Linked DNA regions of Homo sapiens. The protein of the gene in region 3 interacts with the protein of the main gene of each other region in a pairwise test. Each region holds a gene or a part of one and is shown on either strand. Other genes may lie near its edges.

Evidence for each region.
Region 1: the proteins of ISY1-RAB43 (region 3) and UBASH3A interact in binary tests that used the Homo sapiens proteins (3 or more experiments, as listed by UniProt).
Region 2: the proteins of ISY1-RAB43 (region 3) and AQR interact in binary tests that used the Homo sapiens proteins (3 or more experiments, as listed by UniProt).
Region 4: the proteins of ISY1-RAB43 (region 3) and KDM8 interact in binary tests that used the Homo sapiens proteins (3 or more experiments, as listed by UniProt).

Annotation. Positions count from the first base shown.
Region 1 is NC_000021.9:42,441,897-42,448,205, reverse strand, and holds the end of UBASH3A (ubiquitin-associated and SH3 domain-containing protein A), read right to left. Parts: intron 5,755-6,309; coding exon 5,610-5,754; intron 5,053-5,609; coding exon of another isoform or gene 5,004-5,052; exon of another isoform or gene 4,901-5,003; intron 4,895-4,900; coding exon 4,788-4,894; intron 3,673-4,787; coding exon 3,563-3,672; coding exon of another isoform or gene 3,373-3,562; intron 1,150-3,372; coding exon 1,012-1,149; 3' UTR 522-1,011; downstream 1-521. UniProt on the Homo sapiens protein: Interferes with CBL-mediated down-regulation and degradation of receptor-type tyrosine kinases. Promotes accumulation of activated target receptors, such as T-cell receptors, EGFR and PDGFRB, on the cell surface.
Region 2 is NC_000015.10:34,966,741-34,973,925, forward strand, and holds the start of AQR (RNA helicase aquarius), read right to left. Parts: upstream 3,003-7,185; 5' UTR 2,874-3,002; coding exon 2,799-2,873; intron 1-2,798.
Region 3 is NC_000003.12:129,088,064-129,095,089, forward strand, and holds part of ISY1-RAB43 (ISY1-RAB43 protein), read right to left. Parts: coding exon 6,962-7,026; coding exon of another isoform or gene 6,923-6,961; intron 4,531-6,922; coding exon of another isoform or gene 4,451-4,530; exon of another isoform or gene 4,437-4,450; intron 3,284-4,436; coding exon of another isoform or gene 3,033-3,283; 3' UTR 1-3,032. Other genes in the region: RAB43 (ras-related protein Rab-43), read right to left, coding at 3,033-3,283, 6,923-7,026. UniProt on the Homo sapiens protein: Component of the spliceosome C complex required for the selective processing of microRNAs during embryonic stem cell differentiation. Required for the biogenesis of all miRNAs from the pri-miR-17-92 primary transcript except miR-92a.
Region 4 is NC_000016.10:27,213,504-27,220,529, reverse strand, and holds part of KDM8 (bifunctional peptidase and arginyl-hydroxylase JMJD5), read right to left. Parts: intron 6,946-7,026; coding exon 6,779-6,945; intron 5,928-6,778; exon of another isoform or gene 5,758-5,927; intron 5,655-5,757; coding exon 5,522-5,654; intron 4,586-5,521; coding exon 4,541-4,585; intron 1,570-4,540; coding exon 1,420-1,569; intron 138-1,419; coding exon 45-137; intron 1-44. UniProt on the Homo sapiens protein: Bifunctional enzyme that acts both as an endopeptidase and 2-oxoglutarate-dependent monooxygenase.

The DNA.
Region 1 (6,309 bases), on a different chromosome or scaffold from region 3:
AGAAAAGGCAAGGATCCTCCCCTGGAGGCTCCAGAAGAAACATAGCCTGCTGAGAAAATGCCAACCTCCAGAACCGTAGGAGAGTCAGCGTGTGTGTGTGTGCATGTGAGCGTGTGTGTGCCTGTGTGTGCATGTGTGTTTGTGTGTGTGCATTGCATGTGTATGCCTTTGTGTGCATGTGTGCAAGTGTGTGCATGTGTTTGTGTGCTCATGTGTGCATGTATGCATGCACGCGTTTGTATGTGTATGTGTGTTTGCATGCTTGTGTACCTGCGTGTGTGTGCATGTGCGTGTGCATGTGTGTGCGCATGTGTATGTGCACGTGTTTGTGTGTGTGCATGCTCGTGTGTGCCTGTCTTTGTATGCATATGTGCATGTGTGTATGTGCCTGTGTGTGTGTGTGTGTGTGTGTGTGTGTAAAGTTTGTGTTCTTTCCATGACCCCCAGGTTTGTGGTCATTGGTTACAGCAACCACAGAGACATAGTAACATGAATGTTGACAGCACGGAGCAGCAACCCAGTTTTGACCTGGTCGATGGTTTTCTGGGACCATTTTATTGACTATTACACCTGTTTTAGCCCATGTGGATATGGCTAAAGAGTGATGGACCCAGAAAAAGAAAAAACGATTGGGAATTTAATGATTAGACCATGGAAAATGAAGTGGTTAGATCCTTCGTGTGTGGTGAGTCTTTAATTCCTGGAAGTTAGAGTCCCGGGCAGTTGTGTCCCCAGCTGCAGACACTCGGTGTACATGCTGCAGGGCGGCATCCTCACCCAGCCACCTGCCCTGTGCTCCCCGCAGCTGGGCTGGTGGACGATGGGTCCACAGATGGGAGTTACAAAGGCGAAAGCCGGAGGGAAATATTCCGGGATATAAAAGTGCGTCTCGTGCTTCTACAAATCACATTGGGTGAGACTAAGACGCCTCTGGAAACAGCAGCATCTCCCAGCCTCTGCACATGGTTTCTGCCTCTCCACTCTGAGGTTATGACAACATCACCGTGGCTCTCAGTTGCCTGAGATCCAGTTCCTCCAGTTAAATGCTGCGTTCGCCCCGTGGGTCAGGGTCTTCACCGGTGGGTTCACCAACTCCCATTTTCCTTCCTCTTTATTTTCTTCACAGAAGCACATGCCCAGGGAAGGGATCTGGAACAGAGTTTTAAATCACTTGTTAATATCTTATAGCAAGTCCATCAATTTCAGACTAGCTCCAAAGCCAACTGTCAGGCACACCTCTACTTTGGAGGGTCTGCGACTGCCCAGGCTGGCACTGCCACCATTGAATGGCACCAACATCTGCCCTGGCGGTGCCCCGTGGGGGATGTCCCCTAGCCAGGGGACACTGGGTAATTCCGGAGACATTTCTGATTGTCACAACTGAGGATGGAGGTGCTGCCGACACCTAGCAGGTAGAGGTCCTACAAGGTGGTACATCCTACAATGAGTAGAACAGCCCCCACCACAAAGGTCTGCAGGCTGAGGTGGAGATTGCCATCCACCACTTAAGGAGTGACTCATATTCTCATATTCAGCATCACAAAAAGACACAGACATTGAGTTTTCAGACCCAAAAGAAAAGCACAAAGTGAACCTTTAGACCTCCATCCCTTCATCTGTGAAATGGATGTGTGAGAACAGAGCTTTGTGGTGAAGCCTTTTTTGTTTTTGTCTTTTCTTTTCTTTCTTTCCTTCCTCTTTCTAATGTCTAGAAATTCCTCAGGCAGATGAAATTTACAAAAATGCCAACTGGCAGGGGGGTCTGAGTGAGGCTGGTGTTGACCCTAGGGTGATTCTTTCCTCACGCTTGCAGAGGCTGTGGGCGAGGGGCGGTGATGGGCTGGTCGGGGAGGGTCCTGAGTGCTCCCTTTCCAGCTGCCCTGATTTGGGGGCCCATCATTTGGTAGAGCCCCCCCTTTGTATTTTCTGATATGCATGAGCAAGTCCAGCTTATTTTGGGGTAGGGGCAGGGTGAACGCCACGTGACCAGCATAAGAAAGTCCAGGAGTTTGGAAGTTCAAGATTGGCATCTATGGAAGGGGGTGAAGGGTCCAAGGAGTGGGTGGAGCTTTGGCCACAAAGGCTCATGGGTTTGAGGAACTGTCAGCAGCTGGTGTGTGCAGTGCTGCCACCCTTGGTTACGTGGGCCCCCAGGAGCGCCTGGGGCTGGAGGCTTGGTATGTGTATATGGGACTGTGGGAAGCGGGGCAGGGACAGGAGGAATGCATCAGAGCGCATGTGTGGGAGACCCATTTGCAGAAGCAAGAGCAACATTTTGGGAGCAGGTGGTGCCGGGGCTGCCCCGGACAGTCCCCAGGAAAATCCATGCAGACCTCTACCAGTGTGGCCCAGGGGGGTTGAGCTGCCCTATTTGGACAATGCTCACCTGGTGGCTCAAGAATCCAGGGCGCTCGGAAATGTCTGGATCATAATTGGGACACACCACCCTGGAGACATTTTGCAGGGGAAGCATGTTTCTACTCAGGTGCAGAGGAAAATGGAGCAAGAAAGGGAGATTCGGGTGTCTGATGCCTAATTGCTGAGTGACAATGACCCACGGCAGGCATGCTCTTCATGTGCGTAACCTCTCATCTGGCTGCTGAGGCAGGCGTAGCTAGAGAGCTAAGCCCTCCTGCAGGCACCTGGCTGGTGTCACTGGGCTGGGCCCGGGAGTTGGGCTCCTCTGAAGCCCCTGACCTCTTGGGGGGACTCAGCAACCCCCACTGCTGCCCACAACTTATGGCAAACAAGCTGTGGCCAGTGTGGTCCTGTGGCAGTGCTATGTGAAGAAACCAGGTCAGGGCCTCAAGCACCTCCGATGACAGGCATTGTCTATGCTGCACGTGCTGCCTGGGCACTGACCAGTGGACTGATGAATTTCATAAAAAGGTCAGGACTGTGGTGAGTCCAGCCTTGAGTAGATCTGCAGGGAAGGGCTGGGACTGGGGTGGGATCTGCACTCCTGAGTTTGCCTGCCTCAATTCACCCATGGACTGGACATCACCCTCTGGCTTTGCTGAGTGATAATCAAGGTTGTCCAAGATGTCACGTGTGCGTTATCCTCTGTTTGTCATTCACAAGGCCCTTGCCAGAGCCTGAGCACTCTGGCAGCTACAACCAGCTCAAGCTTCTTCCATGCTGGGTGACTCCAAGGGCAAGAGGATCAAGGGGCTCCTTTTCATCCATCAGCCGCCCTGCCCCAGGTCCCCAGAAGAGGCCAGAATCGAGTCCCACAGTCGTTTCTTCCCTCCTCATCTAAACTGCTTACTCCTTCCTGGACCGTCTGTTTTTCTACGAGAGCTGCAAGGGGTCATGGCATGAGCTGACTGGTAAAAAGTTGGCAAGTGGCCAATGATGATGAGGTTGACTGACCTATCCACCAGCCCCAGCCCGAAGTCACCCTTCGCATAAGAGCCGGTGGGCACAGTCTCCGGGGGCACGTGGATCCTGGTGGCCCTGGGTCAGCCGGACACTTGTTTTCATTCCGAGAAGTGGATGAGATAAACCTGTGTCTTCGGGATGCTTGATTTTGTGGCCCAAAGAGCCAAGAGTGGGCGCGTACCTTTCTCACGAGTTGGGCAAAATCCCCACATTCCCGGGGCGGCAGCCCGAGCAGTGGCCGCGTGCAGGAGTCCAGAGTGGAGCCGTGACTCACAATTAGGATGACACCCGCTGTGGAAAACAAGAACACCTCCAGGTCAAAGCAGCCCCAGAGAGCACCTTTTATTAGACTGGGGTCCCCAAAGTGGTGGGGGGCAGAGCTATCTCAGAGTGCCCCGAAGCCTGGCGAGACCCCCGGGCTAGAAGTAGTGTGGCTGGTAACCGCTCAGTGATGCCTGCGTCCCACCCTCGCTCATGGATTCCTCTGCACGCAGCAGCTGCCCACCAGCCTCAGGGAGGCCTAGGAAGTGAGCTGAGCCACCCCCTGTGGTCGCTGGCTGCCTGGGCCCCGTCAGCCACAGACTGGGATGTAGCGGTGGCTGACGCCCAAGCCAGACCTGATTCACTTTAGAAAGGTCAGCCGGTTATTTTGTCACACGAGCCTGCTACGACTCCTGCTTTAGATAAGAACACCTGGAGACCACAGGCCGAGTGGGTCTCCCTCAGGAGACACGCTTGTCCCTGCCAGCTCAGGGGAAGGCGTGGGAAGTCAGCGCTTCTGTGCATGCTTCATCCAGGACAAAGCAACACGGGAGGGTTAGGAGACCCGTGTGATGGGTCAGGGAAGGGGGCGCCACCTGGAAGTTGGTTGTTCTTTCTCTCTCTGTCTCTTTTGTTTCCCAGGAAGCTGACTCAAATCCCTTGGACATGGGTGGATTGTGTGACCCTGCTGGCCTGGGTCCCATCAGCATTCAGTCCCAGGATGGGGGGTTCCAGGGCCTGGGCGGCAGGGGAGTGTGTGTCTGTGCACCCGGTTACTGCACCAGCAGCAGCAGTGATGAAAACTTTGTTGCTGGAGAATGGTGGGGGGCGGGCAGGGGAAGTGGGGGCATTCATAGGTTCAGAAAATCGGCCAATTTCCATCTCAGAGATCATTCCCCTCCCATCAGCACTCAGTCCCAGGATGGGGGGTCCCAGGGCCTGGGCGGCAGGGGAGTGTGTGTCTGTGCACCCGGTTACTGCAGCAGCAGCAGCAGTGATGAAAACTTTGTTGCTGGAGAATGGGGGCGGGGGCAGGCAGGAGAAGTAGGGGCATTCATAGGTTCAGAAAATTGGCCAATTTCCATCTCAGAGATAATTCCCCAAGCCCCAGGGGCTGTTCATACTGAGGATGGTGAGGCACTTACTGTCCTGTGGACAGGTGTTGACGATTTGCACCATGCTCGCCGTGCACCTGTCCATGTACTCCTGGTAGCTCTCGGCCGGCATGAGGGCGGACAGGGGAAACGCGGGCCTGGAAGGATGAGAAGGAGAGGCTGCTGCCCTGGCACTTTCGTAGGGATTAGGAAGGCTCAGCTGCAGTTAGCTGGGGAAGGAGAACGTTCTTCCAGGATGGCTCTGCCTCAAGGCAGGCTCATGGTCAACAGGCAGGCTCCAGTTTTGTGCTGAAAACTGGCAAAGCACTGACAGTCAATCTCCAGCACACATTCTTACTCAACACCAGGAGGGCTCTGTGATGGCAGAGTCAGACATGGGTGGAGAATGACAAAGACTCTCTCCTTGACTAAACTCCAGTCCAGCTCCTCTGAACCTTCTTCTCAATGAGGTCTTGACCCTTGGGCTTCTGTGTCTGTTCTTGCAGAGTGAGTTTAGCAAGAACCTCCTACCTTCGACATCTGATCAAGTTCCTTATCCTCTACCACCCCCCAGGTGATGTCTGATCACCTTGGCCTGCCTTCAGCAAGAGTCTCCATTTAGGTCAGTTTAGCAAGAATGACCCACCTTCTCAGGAATTTTCCATCCACTGACCCCCACCCTGCTCTGTGGCTATAACTCCCCTCTTTTCCTTGTATTAGGAGTTGAGCCCCACCTCTCTCCCCTGCTGCAAAACCCCACTGCAGTGGTCCCTCTTGAATAAAGTCTTTCTTACCATTTTAACAGTGTCATGAAATTTTTCTTTAACAATAACTGGAAAAGCCCCAGTGGCAGAGAACTTTAGAACAGCATACCTGTAATCAGTGTCAATGTTGAAATTTGCCTCTTTCAGCTCTTCCAGGCTCATGAGGGTTGGGGTGGTTTTGCCAGCTTCCCATTTTGTCCATTCAAAGATTCCAGGTTCCACTCGTATCTTGATTTTTTTCTCCAGTTTGAGTTCTGGATTCAACAGAATACAAGTGTTTATCATCCTCAACATCCACCCTGACTTTGCATAAATAAGTCTCCTTTTAGATCTCAGACCGTCACACACACGTCTAAATCATGCCTTTTAAACAGTGTGATTTTCTTCTTGGCAAATACCGTTCTGTGATTAGGCATAGCTGTGCTATTTCTGAAGTCAAAACTGACGAGCAGTGGGAAGGTATCAGAGGAGTGATGGCCCCCTGTGTGCCAGGAAGGGCCAGAGTCTTCCAGGAGCTGGTGAGTGTCCCAGGCAGCAGGCTTAGGCTGGGGCTCACCTGATCACCCAGCACAGCTCCACCGTGAAACCAGCCCACCGGCTGCATCCTCCAACATGGCAGATCCAATGATCAATGGACAAGATGTGACCCATCATGAAGAATGTTGGCCTCATGAGGCACTTTCCTGATAAACACTTACACAGACGGGGCAAGAGGTGAAGAATGGAAGGAGCCATCTTCTGGAATATTCTGACTCCCTGCAACTCACATTTCCCAGGCATTTTATATTTTGATTAAAGGAAGAGCCATA
Region 2 (7,185 bases), on a different chromosome or scaffold from region 3:
GAGAAAGGAAGGTTCTCAGCAATCTTGGGCCATGGGAACAAACATTAATGTCTAATATTTGCCAGATACTGTTTAGGCTCTTCTAGAGTGCAAAGAAAGGTAATCTTTGCCTTCAAGGCCACCCTGGCCTTTTTTTTTTTTTTTTTTTTTTTTTGAGATGGAGTTCGCTCTTGTTGCCCAGGCTGAAGTACAATGGCGTGATCTCAGCTCACTGCAACCTCTGCCTCCTGGGTTCAAGTGATTCTCCTGCCTCAGCCTCCTGAGTAGCTGGGATTACAGGCATGCACCACCACGTCCGGCTAATTTTGTATTTTTAGTAGAGACAGGGTTTCTCCATATTGGCCAGGCTGGTCTCGAACTCCCGACCTCAGGTGATCCGTCCACCTCAGCCTCCCAAAGTGCTGGGATTACAGGTGTAATCCCACTGCGAGCCACAAGCCACCGCACCCGGCCCACCCTGGCCTTCTTTACATTCACACCTTAAGGTGTGTGTACTTGCTATTTCCTTGCTCTTCTCAAAACTGGCTCCTTCTTTGCATTCAGGTGTTAGCTCAAATGTCACCTCGGAGAGAACTTTCCTGACTGTCTTTCATACACCTCAAACCAGTCTGTCACAGCCCTGTTTCATTTTCCTCATAGCATTTATCAGTGTATGAAACTATACCGTTCATCTGTCTGGTTCTTCCCTCTAAAATGTGAGTTCCATGACAGAAGTAAACTAATAAATGACTTCTACTGCAAAAATGCAGGTATATGGGGAAAGAGACCTCTAATCTCGTTTAAGTTGTCAGGAAAAGCCTCTCTAAAGTAGTGTAGAAGGCTGAGAATGAATAAAGGAAGGTGGGGAGAAAAAAAATGAGGATTCCTAGCAGAGGAACAATGTTGAAAAGCCAGGAGATGAAAGATAGCATGGCACATTCAAATAAACGAAGTTCTGTACAGCTAAGGCACAGAGTTAGAAAGGAAGAGGAAAAAGAGGAAACTGAAGATATAAGCACAGGTCAAATCACACAACACTATGAAGGATTTCAGCCGTTAACCTAAGGGTAATTAGAATTCTTTAAAGATTTCTTTTTTTTTGCTTCGTTTTTAGACGGAGTTTTGCTCTTGTTGCCCAGGCTGGAGTGCAATGGTGCGATCTTGGCTCATTGCAACCTCCGCCTCCCGGGTTCAAGCAATTCTCCTGCCTCAGCCTCCCGAGTAGCTGGGATTACAGGCATGCACCACCAAGCCTGCCTACTTTTGTATTTTTAGTAGAGACAGGGTTTCTCCATGTTGGTCAGGCTGGTCTCGAACTCCCGACCTCAGGTGATCGACCTGCCACGGCCTCCCAAAGTGCTGGGATTACAGGCATGAGCCATCGCGCCCGGCTGAAGATTTTAAGGACAGCCAGCCTTAGTGTAGTCCCTGTAGTCCTAGCTACAAGGGAGGCTGAGGTGGAAGGCTCACTGGAGCCCAGCCAACATAGTGAGACCCTATCTTGAAAGAAGAAAAGGAAGGAAAGGAAGGAAGAGATTTTTTTTTTTTTTTGAGACGGAGTCTCGCACTGTTGCCCAGGCTGGAGTGCAGTGGCGCGATCTCGGCTCACTGCAAGCTCCGCCTCCCGGGTTCACGCCATTCTCCTGCCTCAGCCTCCCGAGTAGCTGGGACCAAAGGCACCTGCCACCATGCCCGGCTAATTTTTTTTCTTTTTATTTTTAGTAGAGACGGGGTTTCACCGTGTTAGCCAGGATGGTCTCGATCTCCTGACCTCGTGATCCGCCCGCCTCGGCCTCCCAAAGTGCTGGGATTACAGGCGTGAGCCCCTGCGCCCGGCCGGAAGGCAGAAATTTTAAGAAGGCAAGTGATATGATGAGATTTGCACTTGTATGAAATCACTCGGAAAGCAACATGAAGAATGGGCTAGAGCAGAGCAAGAGGAAGGACAATATAACAGATTACGATACCTTGGTCCAGGCAGAAAACAATGGCAACCAAGCTTAGGGTGACAGAGATGTAGAACACCAGATAGATTCAAAAGATATTTAGAATGTAGAAATGTAGGGACTAAGGGAAAGGGAGGATTCAAAATCACTCCCTAGGCTTCTGCCCTGGCAAATCTGTTGAGACAAGGAATAAAGAATAAAGAAGCAGGTGGGCATGATAACTTCTACATTGAACTACTTACACTCTTATGCAATTCACAAATAAATAATAAGAATGAGGAATGATGCTGACAACCACAGGACTGTGGTTCCCTATCCAAAGCCAACTGTGGCTCACAATGCAAGATAGTAAACAGATTCTAAATGAACGCTCTCAAACTACAGAATTACTCTGTTTTTAGATAGGTCTATTTGGAGGTGTCTTGTCAGTTTCTCATCGCTGCTCAAAAACTCAGGACACTCTAAGGACCAGGAAAAAGCCTACTCCTACTTGAAGAGGCAGTCCAGCATCACTCTGCTGCGAAGCCTACTTGCCAGTCTCAGATAGACTGGGGTGTTCCCTCCTCTCTGAATCCATTGCTCCTGAGACAAACTCCAACACAGCAAAACTCATACAGTAGTTTTATTTTCATGCGTCTGTCTTCCTTGGGCCATGAACTCCCCAGGGCAGGGCAGCTTCTTTCACCACGGTATGCCCAGCACCTAGCATAGTGGCCGGCACGGAGCTGATACTCAGTAAAAAGACGTGTGTGAATCAATTAACAAACGAATGCCTCCTCCGGACTCCTAAATCCTGAAAAAAAACCCCACCACCAGGCCTCGGGGCCACGACGTCCATACCCACTCACACACACCAGACTCGCCCGAGCTCACCTGGGTCACGAACTCCGCATTGATTTGGGACACCGTAGGGGCCACGATCTTCTTGGGCTGCGCAGGGGCTGCCATGGCAGCACTCTTCCCTCCACTCCAGTGGAAACTAAAGGACCGCTCTGGGCAGCGGCAACCCTGGTCCACTTCCCTTAAGTTACTGCCGGGGCGCTTAACTCCGCGCCGCACAAACGCTCCGGGCCGGATATCCTCAGCCTTCAGAGTCCCGTAGGGAACCCGTACAACAGCCCAAGCGTTCCTCGGGAAGCGGAATGGCGTGTAGCCGGAAGTTCATGCAGGCGTTGGGGCTGAGCTAGCGAGCCAAGAGCTTTGACCTCCTCTGTACACGCCCTCTAGCGGGCGGCAGAGAGAAGACACCTCGCTGGCGGGATTAGGAGGGCAAGGGAGGGACCCGGTGGATGGTGTTGGGTGGGGTTTCTCGTGGTTAGTGAAGAGTGCCGTGTGCGGTGAATGGGGATTTAGTTTTTTTTCAACCCTAAAGAAAAAACAAAACAAAACAAAAAAAACAGCCTGGGAATATGGGCTGGGTTTTAACTGCCCTTAACAGTGTTTTAGTTTAGTTTTGTTTTTTTTGAGACGGAGTTTCGCTCTTGTTGCCCAGGCTGCAATGCAATGGTGCAATCTCGGCTCACAGCAACCTCTGCCTCCCGGGTTCAAGCGATTCTCCTGCCTCAGCCTCCCGTGTTGTTGGGATTACAGGCATGCGCCACCATGCACAGCTAATTTTTGTATTTTTAGTAGACACAGGGTTTCTCCGTATTGGTCAGGCTGGTCTCGAACTCACCAACTTTAGGTAATCCGCCTGCCTCAGGGTCCCAAAGTGCAGGGATTACAGGCCTTAACAGTTTTATGGAGGTAAAAATTGACATACAATAACCCAGCCAGGCGCGGTAGTCACGCCTGTAATCCCAGCGTTTTGGGAGGCTGAAGCTGGCCGATTGCCTGAGGTCAGGAGTTTGAGACCAGCCTGGCTAACATGGTGAAAACCCATCTCTACTAAAAAACAAAATTTAGCCGGGCGTGGTGGCGCGCGCCTGTAGTTCCAGCTACTCGGATTCAGGAGAATAATCACTTGAAGCTGGGAGGCGGAGGTTGCAGTGAGCCGAGATTGCGCCATTGCACTCCAGCTTGGTGACAGAGCGAGACTAGCCTCAAAAAATAAAAATAAAATAATAATAAAAATAATTCACATACAATAACCCACACATATTTAGGTTGTAAAATTTGATGCGTTTTGACATGAACATACATTTGTGAAACTATTGCCAAAATCATAATGAGCATATCAAAGCCTCTAAAAGTTTCCTCGTGAACTTTTGCTATCTGTGCCTTTCACTGTTCCCACCCACTTTTCAGGCAACCACTGATCTGCTTTCTGTCACTATAGTTTGCTTTTCATGGAATTTTATATAAATGAAATAATACAGTGCATGCCTTCTTTCACTCAACGAAATGATTTTGAGATGGATTCATGTTGTTGCATGTATCAGTAGTTCATTCCTTTTTTATTGCTTAACATTCGTTCCATTTTACTGATATACCACAGTTTGATAAACTATTCATCTGCTGATAGACATTTGAGTTGTTCCAAGTTCTCAGTTATTACAAATAAAGCCACTATGAGCATTTGTGTATAAGTCTTCATGTGGACATATACTTCCTTTGCTCTTAAATACTTAGGAGTGAAATATTTGGGTTATACGATAGGTGTGTTTGTTTGTTTGTTGTTTGTTTGAGATGGAGTCTTGCTCTGTCGCCCGGGCTGGAGTGCAATGGCGTGATCTCGGATCACTGCAACCTCTGCCTCCTGGGATCAAGAGATTCTCCTGCCTCAGGCTCCTGAGTAGCTGGGATTACAGGCAACGCGCCATCACACCTGACTAGTTTTTGTATTTTTAGTAGAGACGGGGTTTCACCATGTTGGTCAGGCTGGTCTTGAACTCCTAAGCTCGTGATCTGCCCACTTTGACCTCCCAAAGTGCTGGGATTACAGGCATAAGCCACTGCACCCGGCAAGTATATGTTTAAGTTTTTAGAAACTGCCATCTTTCTAAAGTAGTACTATTTTACATTCACATCAGGAGCATATAATTCTAGTTTGTTCTCCACCTCGTCAACACTTAATATGGACAATTTTTTTTAAATTTTTAAGTTCAAGGGCACATGTGCAGGATGGGCAGGTTTGTTACATAGGTAAAGGTGTGTCATAGGGGTTCATTGTACAAATTATTTCATCACTCAGGTATTAAGCCCAGTATACATTAGTTATTTTTTCTGATCCTCTCCCTCCACCCACCCAACCCTCTGGAAGGCCCCAGTGTGCATTGTTCCCCTCTATGTGAATATGGACAATCTTTTAATTTTAGTCTTTATTTATTTATTTATATATTCATTTTGAGATGGAGTCTCACTCTGTCGCCCAGGTTGGAGTGCAGTGGCCCGATCCCAGCACACTGCAACCTCCACCTCCCGAGTTCAAGCAATTCTCCTGTCTCAGCCACCCGAGTAGCTGGGATTACAGGCACACGCCACCACACCCAGCTAATTTTTGTATTTTTAGTAGAGACGGGGTTTCGCAATGTTGGCCAGGCTGGTCTCGAACTCCTGACCTCAAGTGATCCACCTGCCTCGGCCTCCCAAAGTGCTGGGATTACAGGCGTGAGCCACCGGGGGCGCCCAGCCCCTAATTTTAGTCATTTTAATAGGTGTGTGATATATTTCGTTGTGACTTTCATTTACATTTCCCTAATGACTAATTGAGCATCTCTTCATGTGCTTATTTGCTATTCATATATCTTCTTTGGGGAAGCCTCTATTCATATTTTTTGCCCTTTTTTAAATTGAATAACTTGGTTTCTTACTACTGAGTTTCAATGCACACCCCTACCATTCCCAAATCCATACGTAAATTAAACATGTGTCTCTAGTTAAACTCTCCCTGGATGAACACATGCAAGAAACTGATAACACTATTGTTTCCAAGAAGAAGGAACTGTGGGGAGGGGACAACAGGAAGGGGAGAAAAGTTATTTCATATTTTATACCTTTTTGTAACTTTAGAATTTTGTAATATGTATGACATGTTCAAAAATAAACAGTGTAGGCCGGGTGCAGTGGCTCACGCCTGTAATCCCAGCACTTTGGGAGGCCAAGGCGGGCAGATCACAAGGTCAGGAGACTGAGACCATCCTGGCTAACAATCCTGTCTCTACTAAAAATACAAAAAATTAGGCGGGTGTGGTGGCGGGCGCCTGTAGTCCCAGCTGCTCGGAAGTCTGAGGCGGGAGAATCACTCGAACTGGGGAGGCGGAGGTTGCGGTGAGCTGAGATCAGGCCACTGCACTCCAGCCTGGGCAACAGAGCAAGACTCCATCTCAAAAAAATAAAAATTTAAAAAAACAGTAAAAAAATAAACAGTGTGGGCCAGGCGCAGTGGCTCACGCCTGTAATCCCAGCACTTTGGGAGGCCGAGGCAGGTGGATCATCTTGAGGTCAGGAGTTCAAGACCAGCCTGGCCAACATGGTGAAACCCCATCTCTACTAAAAATACAAAAACTTGCTGGGCATGGTGGTGTGCACCTGTAATCCCAGCTACTCGGGAGGCTGAGGCAGGAGAATCACTTGAACCCAGAAGGCGGAGGTTGCAGTGAGCAGAGATTGCACCATTGCACTCCAGCCTGGGCAACAAGAGTGAAACTCCATCTCAAAACAACAACAACAACAACAACAACAACAAAAATAAAAACAAAAATAGACAGTGTGAACGTGAAAGCAAAAGCCTGTAGGAATGGAGATTAAATGTGAAGTCCTTTTTCCCCCTATGTTATTGTGTAAAGTTTAGAGTGCTAGTGATTAAAATTTGCATCATCACAATTTTAAATGTAACAGATTTTGCATGTATAATATCTATTGACATTTTACTTACAAACACACTATAAAACAGGAAAAATAAGATTCTGATGGCTTTTATGATGAATCTTGACATATAACATTTTGACTAGCAAAAACCACAGGGACTGTATTTCTATACTATGCTATAGTTACAGCACAGATAAAGCCACCGAAGCAGGTCATGCAGGGCTATGTCAGGAGTCAACAATAAGGCTTGATGTGTTGAAAGCCTTGAAAGCTAGGGAGAGGAAGCTCTCTTCCACAATAACAATTGTGGAAGACAATGGGAAACCACTGATTGTAAATCTATTTTTGGAAGATGACTTCTGAGTAGTATGTCAAATGGGTTGGTGCAGGTACTATGGGGATGGGAATATCAGCTAGGAGACTACCGCAAATCTAAAGCTAAAATAAAAAGGACTAAATGTGGGTTCTGACAGTCAAAATGAAAAGGAAGGAATAAATGTGGAAGACACTG
Region 3 (7,026 bases):
GGAGAGCTTAGCCTGCCAAGGGGAGGAAACAAGCCGGCTTTGTTTTGTCTCACACACTTCCCCGTCTTCTCTCCCAGCCCAGTTTTAAGGGCCGGAAGGGCAGTGGGGCCCCCTCCTGGTGGGATACAGCAGGGCAGGAGCCCCTGCAACCCCAGGTACAGGTCTTGAGTCCCTGGACACCGGCTTTTGTGCCTGAGAGGGGGTGGGAACGCTTCTCTGTAGGAAATGGCTTCAGTCCAGGATCCAGGGGTAGGGGAACCTCGACCATGGGGTGGGTTGCTCCTGCCAGGGGGTACTAGGGGCAAGGCCCCAGGGTGGAGCCAGTTCTGGGAGCTGTGTCCAGCTAGGCATCTGTGACCCCAAATGGCATGAATAAAAGGGCAGGTTGCTAAGAGCCAGGGGAGGGCATGGGGCAGGGAGACCAGGTTGGCCCAGACAGGACAGAGGTGCTCCAGGGACAGGGTGCTGGAGTGAAGCCAGGTGGAGCGGTGGAGCTGTGGAGCCTTTGAAACATCCTGAGGGCCCAGGCCTGCCACAGGGTGACCTGGGCAGAGGAGAAGCCCAGAGGACAGCAAGGTGCCCAAATGAGGTCAGGGCTTCTGGGGTGGAGGGACGGGGGGCACAGTGGCGGCGGGGGAAGGAACGTTGAGTCCCAGGTGAGCCTGCCTTTCCAGGCCAAGCCCTTGGAGTGAGGGTGCTCCTGCCTGGGGGGCGAGAAGTGGAAGTGGCTCACAGTCCAAGGTGACAAATGAACCCATCACCGGTCAGCTACCATCCCTGTGAAGGAGCCAGGGTGGAAGGCCCTGTCCATGTCCTCCCTCCCTCCCTAAGCCCTGAGGAAGGTAACAGCCCCACCTGTGAGGCCCCAGCCTGGAAGCAGAGTAGGAGAGCCGGGCTTCTTAGAGGTGGGCAGTGGGTGGTGGTGGGCAGTACTGGTAAGTATGCTTGGGTGGCTGGGACTTGCCCTGGAACTGGGGCTGAAATTCAAACGGGGAGGCCCAGGCCTTTGTTCCCAAGACCCTGTGAATGCTCCCTGTTCCCCCAAAAACAGAGGGGCTCTGCAAGGACAGGCTTCATGGGATTTCTCTTTCAGAGTGGGCCTGCAGTGAAAGACCAGCTCAGCCCCTTCTGACCATGTGACCCCAGAAACTTCAGCCCCAGCAGAAAGGTTGTGAGGCTGGAGGAAGGCACTGCCCACGGCACATCCAGTCCCAGCGGGGTCTGGGGGCACCCCTCAGTGCCAGGCACTGTCTGCCCTGCAAGGGGAGCCCAGGCACTGCAGTGGAGGCGCAGGGGCAGAGCCCAGACCCCACTCAGCTCCACTCTCACCCCTGCCACAAGCAAAGCTGCTGAGAAAGGGAGCCAGGCAGCCTCGCCTCTGGCGCCCCCCAATCTGATGCACCCAGACTCCCCTCAATGCAGGTGCTAGCCCCTCAGCTCCTGGCAGCCTTCCTCCCCTGCAGAACCAGGCTCAGCCATTCCACAGGTAGCCTCCCTGCCCAAAAGGAAGCCTGGCAGGTGAGATGCTGGCTCCACCACCAGCATCAAGCCCTGCTTGTCTCAGTCTCAGCAGAGGAAACCCTGTCCAGGCCCCAACCCTGCCTCTTGGGTCACCGTGGCACTGCTGTAAGGCCTGCTCTTGCCCTATGGCCAGGCCTGCCTGGAAAGTGCTTAGTGCAGAGGGCAGGGAGGCATGGGGGAGGCCTCTCACTGGCCCAGGGACTGCACTGAGCCATGCCTGGCCTGCCCCTGGGAGCTAGACCACAAACCGACGCAGCCCTGCTCGTGGGTCCAAGAGCTGCTTACTTCTGGGGGCACCCATGCTGAGGGGGCTGCGAGGCAGAGCTGGGCTGACACAGACGGACTGGGATTGGCTAAGGAAGATCACCTGGCCCCTCCAGCCCTAGCCCTGGCTCTTTTGTCACTGTGATACCTCTGAGCCACATGCCCAGAGGACAATGCTGCTTCCCACATCCCCCTACCCCACTTTTGCCTTCTAACCTTGGTGCCCAGCTCAGGGTGAGGCAGTTAAGGGTCCAGGGAATAAAATGGGCCAGGCCAAGGACCGCCAGGGCCTCTCCTTTTTTGTCTGGGAGACTCGATTCCATAGACTGGGACCCACGCTCGGCTGGCAGGATTCCTGCTTGTGGGGTAAGGCTGGGTGCCTTGCGGTGCCCTCTCATCCCTGAGCCTCAAGGATGCAAGCTTCTACTTGGACCTTAAATGTCCACTTTCTCATCTCATTCCCCCACCTGCCAGACTTCTGAGTGCTGGCACTGAAGGATTAGCTAATTTTGCAACCTGAGTGGCAAAACACTGGGCCCTGAGCCAGCAGACAGTCCCCACCTAGCTGTGGGCCGTGACCCCACCTAGCTGTGGGCCGTGACCCCATGCTGTGCTGATGAAAATGAGAAGCTACACAGAAAGTCAGAAAACTCAGAGGTCCTGATAAGGCAGTGAGCCAGACCCCAGGGAGATGTCTGTGAGTGCTGCGGGGGCAGTGAAGGCAGGAAGCAGGTTCCCCGCCTGGAAGGGGCTGGGGCTTCCCTGGAGCTGCGCTCAGGCACCAAGTCTGTGGGTCTCATGGCTCTAGCTCTGCTGCTCTGTGCAGAGCCCCAGGATGACCGGGAAGAACCCAGGGCACTGGACACATCCCTGGAAAGCAGCAACCTGCTGCCACAGGTAAAGCAAACCCATGAGAGGAAACGGTCAGAGCCAGCAGGCATGGGACAGGGAGGACTGCTGGCCCCTCCTACTGTGGCCCACACCGGCGGGTTCAGGCCAGTCTTGGAATGTGAAGATGGTGGAGGGCCAGCTGCTGGCTGGCAGGGTGGCCCGCCAGGGTATCCTGCTTCCCCTTCCTCAAGGAGAGCCTCCATCCCGCAGCCAGGCCACAGGATGCAGAGCTCCAGAGCTTCACCCGGCTGCTGTAGTTGCCGGTACCCAGGAGGGCTGGCTCTGGAGGGCTGGGCTTGGCAGGCTGGGGAGAGCAAGGAGGTGGGGAACCCCCAGTCTGCCGGCCCGGCCCCTGGTCAGCACCCGCAGCCCCAGCCTTCTCCGATGTCCTTGCTGTTCAGCTGGATGTGGTCGGGGCTCTTCTCGCTGAACAAGGGGCCCCCGTGCCGCATGATGAGCTCCGTGGCCACCCTCAGGAAGGCCTCCTCCACGTTGCTCGAGTCCTTGGCAGACGTCTCAATGGCACACAGGATGTCATAGTGCTCAGCCAGGCTCTGTGCCTCAGCCAAGGAGACCTCCCGAAGCTCGCTGAGGTCTGACTTGTTCCCTGCGGAGGAAAGCCGGGGCAGCATGAGGCCATGGGGGCTGGGCAAGCCCAGTCCCACCTGGGAGGGTCACGCTGACAGCCCCATGCCACTCCCTTCCACCACTATAAATGGACACCCCTGGCATGGTCATCTGTCTTTCTTTAAAAAACCTTTTTTAGGCCGGGTGCAGTGGCTCACGCCTGTAATCCCAACACTTTGGGAAGCTAAGGCAGGAAGACTGCTTGAGCCCAGGAATTCAAGACCAGCCTGGGCAACACAGTGAGACCCCGTCTCAATTTACCCAGATCCTCCTAGATGGTATGAGATGACTTCATTACATTCCAAACAATCTGTTAAATTGCTCCTTGACCCAATTTCTAGAATAATTTTTTAAAAGTCTCTACATGGTTGACTTTTGTAATGTGGTTATAAGGAAGACAAAAAAAAAAAGAGTCTGGGCCAAGCGCAGTGGCTCATGCTTGTAATCCCAGCATTTGGGAAGGCCGAGGTGGGTGGATCACCTGAGGTTGGAAGTTCAAGACCAGCCTGGCCAACATGATGAAACCCCGTCTCTACTTAAAAAAAATACAAAAAATTAGCTAGGCGTGGTGGCGGGGGCCTGTAATCCCAGCTACTCGGGTGCCTGAGGCAGGAGTGGCAAGCGGAGGTTGCAGTGAGCCGAGATTGTGCCACTGTACTCCAGCCTGGGCAACAAGAGCGAAACTCCGTCATAAAAAAAAAAAAAAAAAAAAAGTCTGTAAAGATCTAAAATTTCCTTGGTAACCTTAATTGATGTAGCAACCAGTTTCAAAGTGTGAAACTTATTTGGATCCTGATCTCAACAAACTGGAAAAAATAAAACACATATGAATTTTATGGGCAATTATAAATCTGAATACAGACTGGCTATTTTATATTATTAAGGAAATGTCAGTATTTTTAGATGAGAAAATAATATTGCTGTTTTTAAGTGTTTAAATATTTTGTAGGTTCATGCTGGAATACTGCCAGGTGAAATGGTTTGATGTGAATTTGTCTCAATAATCCGAGGGAGGGGAGGTGACATGGTACAGATGAGAGGAGGTTGGACTTCAGTTGCTAATTGCTGAAGCAGGGTAATGGGTACCTGGGGGCTCATTATTATACTATTCTAAGCCAGATATAGTGGCTCACACCTGTAATTCCAACTACTTGGAGGTTGAGGCAGGAGGATTGCTTGAGGCCAGGAGTTCAAGATCAGCCTGGGCAACATAGCAGGACTGCATCTCTAAAAATATATGTATGTATATAAGTATGCATAAATAAATAGATAAAATACTATTTTCATAGCTGTATAAAATGTTCTATAGGCCGGGCGCGGTGGCTCACGCCTGTAATCCCAGCACTTTGGGAGGCTGAGGCGGGTGGATCACGAGGTCAGGAAATCGAGACCATCCTGGCTAACATGGTGAAACCCCGTCTCTACTAAAAATACAAAAAATTAGCCAGGCATGGTGGCGGGCGCCTGTGGTCCCAGCTACTCGGGAGGCTGAGGCAGGAGAATGGTGTGAACCCAGGAGGCAGAGCTTGCCATGAGCCGAGATCGCGCCACTGCACTCCAGTCTGGGCGACAGGGTGAGACTCTGTCTCAAAAAAAAAAAAAAGTTCTATAATAGAATGTTTTTTAATTAATTATTTTTTGGAAGACAGAGTCTTACTCTGTCGCATAGGCTGGAGGACAGTGGCACGATCTCGGCTCACTACAATCTCCGCCTCCCAGGTTCAAGCGATTCTCCTACCTTGGCCTCCGCAGTAGCTGGGATTACAGGTGTGTGCCACCATGCCTGGCTAATTTTTGTATTTTTAGTAGAGATGGGGTTTCACCATGTTGCCCAGGCTGGTCTTGAACTCCTGAACTCAGGCAATCCACCCACCTCAGCCTCTCAGTGTTAGGATTACAGGTGTGAGCCACCATGCCAGGCTGGAATGTTTTTCAGAAATGTCCTGGATAAATGGGAATTGGTGGCTGGGTGTGGTGGCTCACACCTGTAATCCCAGCACTTTTAGAGGTCGAGACGGGTGGATCACGAGGTCAGGAGATCGAGACCATCCTGGCCAACATGGTGAAACCCAGTCTCTACTAAAAATACAAAAGTTAGCCAGGTGTGGTGGTGCGTGCCTGTAGTCCCAGCTACTCAGGAGGCTGAGGCAGGAGAATTGCTTGAACCCGGGAGGCGGAGGTTGCAGTAAGCCAAGATCGTGCCACTGCACTCCAGCCTGGCGACAGAGCGAGACTCCGTCCCCCACCCCCAGCAAGAAAAGGTGGGGAAATGGTTAGGCTACGTGAGGAAAGCTCTGTTCATGCCAAGCACTCCATGTCCTAGTCTGAACAGGCTGTGGAAGGCAGGCCACATGGAACCAGGCACCACCCTCTTCCTGGCTGGAGTCAGGTCCAGGCCCTGTCTGTACATTTGAGTCAGAAGAATCAACCTGTTGGCCCAGCTACTCGGGAGGCTGAAGCAGGAGAATCGCTTGAACCAGGGAGACAGAGGTTGCAGTGGTTTTGCAGATCTTGCAGAACCAAGATCACGCCACGGCACTCCAGCCTGGGTGACTGAGTAAGACTCTGTCTCAAAAAAAAGAATCAACCTGTTGGGGTGAGGACCCCAGGGATAACATAAGAGCTAAAGAGCTTCTCCAGTCCAGGTCTGGGAAGGTTATATAGAAGGAAAACAAAGGTAAACAGCATCCTTCCACAGCAGCAGTTCTCAAAGTGGGATCCTTGGACCAGCAAGGTGGGTGTCACTTGGGAATTTGTTAGAAACGCACATTCATGGGCCCCACCCAGCCCGCCTGGATCAGATGCTCTGGAGGTTGAGGCCCTGCAGCTGCACTTGAAGAAGACTTCTGTGGGATTCTGAGGCACGGAAGCCATCAAGTGTCCCTGCTCTGTGTGCGGCACAACAGAGAAAGCCACAGACTTGAGGTCAGCAGAAGCAAACTCAAAGCCTACATGTGTATGCTCACAGGCCATGTGGACCCGGATAAATCACTGCACTTTTCTGAGCCTAGCCCCAGCCCCTGTCAAATGAGGAGAAGCCGGGGTACAAGAGCTAAATCTTGACACATGTGAAGAACAGCAGAGCAAACTTCAGCTCTCTTTCTTCTTTCCTCTAATTCCAATTTTGAATATAACTTTCTTTTTTTTTTTTTTTTTTTTTTTTTTTTGAGACGAATCTTGCTCTGTCACCCAGGTTGGAGTGCAGTGGCGTGATCTCAGCTCACTGCAAGCTCCGCCTCCCAGGTTCATGCCATTCTCCTGCCTCAGCCTCCCCAGCAGCTGGGACTACAGGCGCCTGCCACCACAACCGGCTAATTTTTTTTTATTTTTTTAGTAGAGACGAGGTTTCACTGTGTTAGCCAGGATGATCTCGATCTCCTGACCTTGTGATCCGCCCGCCTCAGCCTCCCAAAGTGCTGGGACTACAGGCGTGAGCCACCGTGCCCGGCCTTGAATGTAACTTTCTAAGTGATTAGCAGGATCAGGATTTGCAAAACCATGGCTCAAACTCTGGCTGGGACTCCCTCTGAACTCAGGGTTACACTGTGTTTAAAAAGCAGAGGGAGGCATGGACAGGCAGAGTGATGGGATTTGTGGTCCCGAGGAATCCCCAACTCACCGATCAGCAGCTGCACAATGTTGGAGCCCGCATACTTCCTCACATCCTCAATCCAGTGAGGCACCGACAGGAAGGAGCTCCTCTTGGTGATGTCGTAGGCAAGG
Region 4 (7,026 bases), on a different chromosome or scaffold from region 3:
AGTGGGGAGAACCTGCAACGTCACCCCAGACCCCCAGTGCCCACCTGGCTCGTGTTATGGAGAAGGTGCGTGTCATGAGGGTACAGAGCCCCTGACTCCTGCGGGGAATACAGCCGGATGTACTTCCTCCCCATCACCTGGGGAGAGAGACCCTGACAGTCAGCTGGTGGCCTCACTCCACTGCTGCCCCAAGCCCACTCTGGCCTCTGTGCCCTTCCACATGCTGCTCCCTGGGCCCAGCCTGCCCTTCCCCACCACACACATGCTTATGGTTCCACGTGTATGTTTTTCTTTCTTTTTTATTTTTTAGAGACAGGGTCTCACTCGGTCATCCAGGCTGGAGTGCAGTGGTACGATCATGGCTCACTGCAGTCTCGACCTCCTGGCCTCCAGAGATCCTCCTGCCCCAGCCTCCCCAGTAGTTGGGACTACAGGTATGCCCCACCACACCCAGCTGATTTTTGTATTTTTATTTTTGGTAGAGATTAGGTTTTAATATGTTGCCCAGGCTGGTCTTGAACTCCTGGCCTCAAGTGATCCTCCTGACTCGGTCTCCCAAAGTGCTGGGATTATAGGTGTGAACTACCAAACTTGGCCTAAGGTATGTTTTTCTTCCAAATACATTTTGAAAAATAACTTCATTTTTGGAGCCCACAATTATTAGGCGCTTGTCTGTGCCAGGCACTGCTTAAGTGCTTTATGTGTGTTAACTGGTTTAATCCTCTCTGAGGTGGTTTATCTTCACTCTCATTTTGCAGGTGAGGAAACTGAAGCACAGAGAGATTAAATGAGCTGCCCAAGCTCACACAGCTGAGGTGTGGCAGGGCTGCTGTCTGCGCCAGGCACGCTGGCTCCCGAAGCCCAGCTCTTAGCCCACTCCTGGGCTGCCTCTCTGGACTGGTCTGCTGGGGTAGGAGAACGTTCTCCTTTACTAAACCTCTCTTTGCCTGCGAAAACCAGGGTGGTCTTACAGCAGTAGACAGAGGTGCCTCCCCTTGCAGCAAATCCATCTGCTCCTCTGACTGGGCCTCAGGAAAAAAACCTCCCAGTGACTGAGAAAACTCCTCCCCCAACCTGCCACCTCCTATTTGGAAGCTGGTCTGGATCGCATGGGTAGCAGGCGGGGAGGGGCAGAGGCACCGGGCACCCACACCAGCACTCGCTCCCTCTCCCGAGGGCTCCCCTGTGAGGGATCTTGGGAGGAGCACATGCAGGAGGAGCCGCTTCTGGAAGCACCGACTGCAGAGGCCTTCCTGGGCCTGGGGCCGTTTGTGGGTTTGCTTTATATTTTTGTCCTCATCCCCTTCAGTGCTTCTTGTTTCTTTTTAAGAGCCCGGTGTTTAAAGGCAGAGAATGTGGCCGGCCAGGTGTCTGGGCCAGGAGGAGTTAGAAGGCCACTATTCCAGCTGCAGCTCCAACCTGCACTAGGAAGTTTTGCTGGGGATCCTGATGTAGTGGGGAGATGGTTCCCTGGGGACCAAACCAGGCATTGATGGTGATTTCCTCCTCCTCCCCATCGCCCAGGCTGCAGTAGTCGGGGATGCTGATGTCCTGCTTCAACTCCGGGATCTGTGGGCGGCAGAGCAGACATGAGATGTGGGGATCCGGCTGGGGACACCGCAGCCCGGAGGCCAACGAAGAGTCAGAAACACATACCTATATCCATTATGTGTGTGTGTGTTTGAGACAGGGTCTGGCTCTGTTTCTCAGGCTGGAGTGCAGTGGCGTGATCTCAGCTCACTGCAGCCTCTGCCTCCTGGGCTCAAGTGATCCCCCCACCTCAGCCTCCTTACTAGCTGGGACTACAAGCATGCACCACACCCGGCTAATTTTTTTTTAATTTTTGTTTTTGTAGAGACAGGGTTTCGCCATGTTGCATAGGCTGCTCTCAAAATCCTAGACTTAATTGATCCACCCGCCTCGGCCTCCCAAAGTACTGGGATTACAGGCGTGAGCCACCGCACCCGGCCCTTGCCGTCCTAGTTTTAAAAGCCAGGGTAGGCACAGAGGATTTGTTGCCATACCTGGCAGAAACAGGCTGGGCAGAGAAGAGAAACTGCCTGACGAGAAAGGCAGGTGTGGGCCTGGGTCTGTGCTCTGAGCTTTATATGATGCAGTAAGGGTGGCGCGGCTCCCCATGGCCTCTGACAGAGTTATATGCCACACATCAAGCGATCTTGGATGTTCACGGTGGGGCAGGGCCGCAGTGGCCTGGCCTCCTTTATTTATTTATTGTAATTTTTTTTTTCAAAGACAGTCTTGTTCTGTCACCCAGTCCGGAGTGCAGTGGTACCATCATGGCTCACTGTAGCCTCAACCTGCAGAGCTTAAGCGATCCTCCTGCCTCAGCCTCCCAAATTGCTGGGACCACAGGAGCATGCCACCGTGCCTGGCTAATTTTATTTTTGTAGAGATGGGGTCTTGCTATGTTGTCCAGGCTGGTCCTGCTTGGTCTCCCAAAGTGCTGGGACTACAGGTATGAGCCACTGCACATGGCCCTGGCCTCCTTTACACAAAGCCAGGGTCTCAGAGTGAAAACACACTCACTCTAAGTCCACTTCCTGTCCAGACCCTTAGCAGGCACCTCAGTTACCTCCGGGGTTGAACCCACCAGAGCAGGCCACCAGCCCACACCCCCCAGGCCACCGAGAACCCCAGGGTTCTTCACGGGACCCTGGATGGACCTGGCGGCATTTTTCAAGCTTGAGAGGCATGAAAACAGGGTTGCCAGAGGGACACAGGGCTTTTTAAGAGTCACTGCTCCGCAGCCTGAAGGCACCTGCAGGTGGACACTACCATTCCTTCGGGAGCAGTGACGGTAACTTCAGGCTGCTGGCTCAGAAACCAGTGTGTACCAGGAAAAGCTGGAATGTTCTCCCTGCAGGGAGCTTGGTCCCAGACACTGCTATTCAGACCTTTAAGAACCTGTCTCAAATCAGCTGTGCAGAAACGCAGCCGCGCCTGCTGCTTAGGACTGAAGTACAAGTTCGCAAGCTGAGGTCCCTCCCAGGGCTGTGAGGGGTTCCTCCCAAAGGTAACCCGACGCTGCTGCTTTTGACCAGAACTGGCCCTGTGGAATCTGAGCAGAAACTATGATTGGTCCCTGATGACATCATCAGGATTTCTGAAAGGTGATTGGCTGACCAGATCATGTCATCAGAATCACTGGCCGAGGATGCAGAGACCCGAAGGGAATCAGTGCTCCCGAGATGTGACTAATAACTGAGGCAGGCTTAAACTGATGGCCAAAATCTTCTAGAACACGGGGTCCCTGGGAGAAAAGTCAATAAGAGGTTCTGGGACAAGAATTTGGTAGGAGTCCCTGAGCGTCCTGTAGGTAGAGAAGGTTCTAGAACACTGTCCTTGCCACACGGCATGATAACACCTGGGCATGGGCTGCTGGGACTTCTCCAGGGTCCTCTCCACAGCATGGTAGACACTCAGCTCTGGGACCCAAGGTAAACACCCAGGCGGCCCTCCATTACCCGAAACATCTTTCAAGTCCTGGCTCATCTTGAAAGTCACTGTGAACTTGGCCTTCTACTCCTAAATATAACTCCTCCTGTCCTACAAAGTATGAAACAGCTGCTCCAGGACAGGGAGCCAAGGTTAACCATGGCTTCCAGGGTCCCCAGCCCACACTGAGGCCATGCCCCCAGGATGACCAGGGTCAGGAGAAAGGTGGGTCTCGGGATCACACAGTAGGGACCTGATCAATTAGAATCCCCCTTTCCTTCACTTAGCAAGTGACATGGACAGGACGCAGGATGCACAGGTCCTAATAGGGAGGCCTGGGGAAGAGAAACCGCCAGCGTCCTTTAATGTCGGCATGAAGGCTCCTGGCACAGCCCCTACTGGCCCTGGGTCCCCCATCGAGACAGAGAAGCAGTCCTGGCTTCAGCAGTAGATACAGCAGCTGATCAGCATCCCAGGGCCCCACTGCAAAGGCTACAGAGGTGCGGCCCCAGCCCACCCCTGGCTGTAGCCCTGACCCTGACTGACTCGAGTCTTCCACGTTCGGGACACGCACCTGGCCCTATCCTTGAATCCTGCCAAGGGCTGCCTTCCTGGGCACTCCTGGCAGACACCACACCAGCCAGGTCCCTCCTGGGCGCCCCAGCTCCATCTATTTAGTGTTTTGGGGTCCTGAATCTGGGCATCTTCCCCGATCTTCCCTCCCTCCCCCACACATCCACCCACGTCCAGGGCTCGGTGGTTCACACCGGTCTTGAACTGCTCCACCTGCCAGCATCACCTCTCCTTGCACCACAGCAATAGCCCAGCCAGCCACCCGCTCCGACAGCTGCTCCCTTCATCTCTGAATAGCAGCCCCTACAATCCTCGGGGCACTGGCGACCCCCCAGTGTTTCCTGTCACTTTAGGAAAATGGCTCCTCATCACCCACGTCCTGTCACCTTCCTAGCCTCACCTGCTGCCTCCCTCCTACTCACGCTCACTGCTCCAGCCGCACTGAGCCCAGGAGGGGAGGAGAGGGGAAGGTGAGACGGTGAGGGGCAGAGGTGCGTGGCCTCAGACTTACCTGGTCAAAGAGCTGGTGCTGAGCAAGGTACCCGACGTCCCTTGGCTAATCCACCGGGGAAAACCAGAGGCAACACAGAAAGCCCAGTTAGTCATGACAGATGCCCTCCTGCTGCTGCTGTCCAGCTGGCCCCAGCTGCAGCACCCGTCACCCTTCCACTCCATCCTGAGTGGTCCTCTCCAACCCTTAGAGGCCCTGGGGCAGCTTCAAAGAACCTCTCCAGCACCGGGGTACCCAGTTTGTAAAGCACTGATCTCATCCATCTGATTGGCAAACATTTTCATAAAATGGCAACAAACAGTGCAGGCAAAGATGTAAGAAAATGGACACTTGTGTTAATTGCTGGTGAAAGTATAAGTGATCTAACTTTTGGGAAAAATAAATTGTCCTATCCTGTCCTGTCGTAATTTTGACAGGGCCTGGTTCTATTGTCCAAGCTGGAATGCAGTGGCCTGATCTTGGCTCACTGCAACCTCTGCCTCCTGGGCTCAAGCAATTTGCCCCACCTCAGCCTCTTGAGTAGCTGGGATTACAGGCACGTACCACTATACCCAGCTAATTTTTATATTTTTTATAGAGACAGGGTTTCACTATGTTTCCCAGGCTGGTCTTGAACTCCTGGTTTCAAGTGATCCGCCTGCCTCAGCCTCCCAAAGTGCTGGGATTACAGGTGTGAGCCACCATGCCTGGCTGCTATTAAAAATTTAAATACACATACTCTAGACTTAGCTGTCCAACTTTTGGAACAGGCTAAAACCCACTGAATTATACTCCCCTGCCCATTAAAAAGGACCTGACATGAATCCCTCATGTCTGCTGGCTAAGCAGCCTGCCTTCCTCGCTGCGGTCGTCCCTCCGACCACAGACTTACAGCCTGGCTCCTCCAAAACCTCCCATTACAACACATGGGGGGTTATTTGCCTAAATGTACTATGCTCTCTGCCTTGCAAGTACTAGGGGAAAGCAGTCCCCATGATGTACCTCATTCACGATGTATTTGCTGATGAACTCGTTGACCGTCATGAGGGTCTGGGACCATTCCTCATCTGTGTACCTCGAACCAACTTCCACTGGGACAGTTCGGCAGCCAGCGATCTCCTGGATATACTCCAAACTAGCAGAAAGACACACATTGGCATCGTCACTGCTAATATCTGTTGGGCATAGTACTAAGTGTGCTTTGCATGTGGTCCCCTTTCATCCTCGGAAAACCTCACGTGCAGAGACAAGGACTGTCATCCCCAGCTTCACTGATGAGGAACCGGCATGGAGAGGTGGGGCTCCCTGCTCAAGGCTGTGTGGCTCATACACAGTGCTGTGCAGCTTTGCAGACAGGGCCGGTAAGTCTGGTTGGCTGGGCTGCTCTAGTTCCCTGCTTGCCAACAGCCTCCTCACTTCTTTCTTTGCTCATTTTGTCACTAAGCTGAGAAACCTTTGAACAAATAGCGGACAGCGTGGCAGGTGGCAGTCTCCTGGACTCTGCCCTCTAGCCTGGGACTGATTCCAGGCCTCATCAGTTACAGGCCAGGGGATCTGAGGCAGGTTACTGAACCCGAGTCCTTGATCCCCATTTACAGAATGGGGGTGATGACAACACCTGTCCTAGTGCCAGGTACGTAGTAAAATGCTTAATGAAGCCTTGCTGTGAGGAGAGCTCCTGCAATGAGAATTCCTCCACATGTGTCAGCGGGTACCATTCCCTCCGCGAAACCACAAAACAGGCGGACTCCATCTACCTTCCTGGAGAGATGCCTCCTTATTTCCAAACTCATGCAGAGCCGCGGCATGACAGCCACGCTCCAGCTGCCTGATCTGATCTCCCCATCATGATTCTGAGAAAGGACTAGAAACAAACACAAGAGACCACAGAATCCCTCAGAGAGAGAGGGGCTGTCTCTTGGGTTATTTCTGCTCTTAGCTTCAGGGCCCTGAGATGGTCTGAAATTGCTAGGATCCTGTAAAATTGCATAACAGAAACATTCTAGGACTGCCACTTAGGGACTCATTAAAAAACCGCTTAAGGCGAGCAAGGTAGAAGGTAAGAATCCCATAACCTGCGGCATAAATTCAGAGCACCTTACTTTTCACTCTTTTTTAACCCCTTGGCAATCAGTCAAGGGCTGCTAGTGAAGCATCTACAAGGTTGCATTTCCCTGGGGATGGTCGGGAGGAATTCAGGGAGCCCTGGGGAACGCTAAAATGGGAAAAGGGACCTCACCTCCCTCAGCGACCACCCACCTCCACTTCTGCATGCACGGCCAGTGGTCAGCCACGCCTTTCAGGATCACGGGCCTCCCTGGAACCAAAAACTGCTCCCTGAAATGCTGGAGGGACGGACGGTGCAGCCGGGGGACTGTTTTTTCTAACTTCACATCTGGAATCAAACCATGGTCCGCCCTTGCTTTCTGTTTAAAATCAAAACAGAACAAAATAGCAACCACCTCAGGAAGTCGACATTTGAGGTATTCCACCAGGAACCTGTGTCA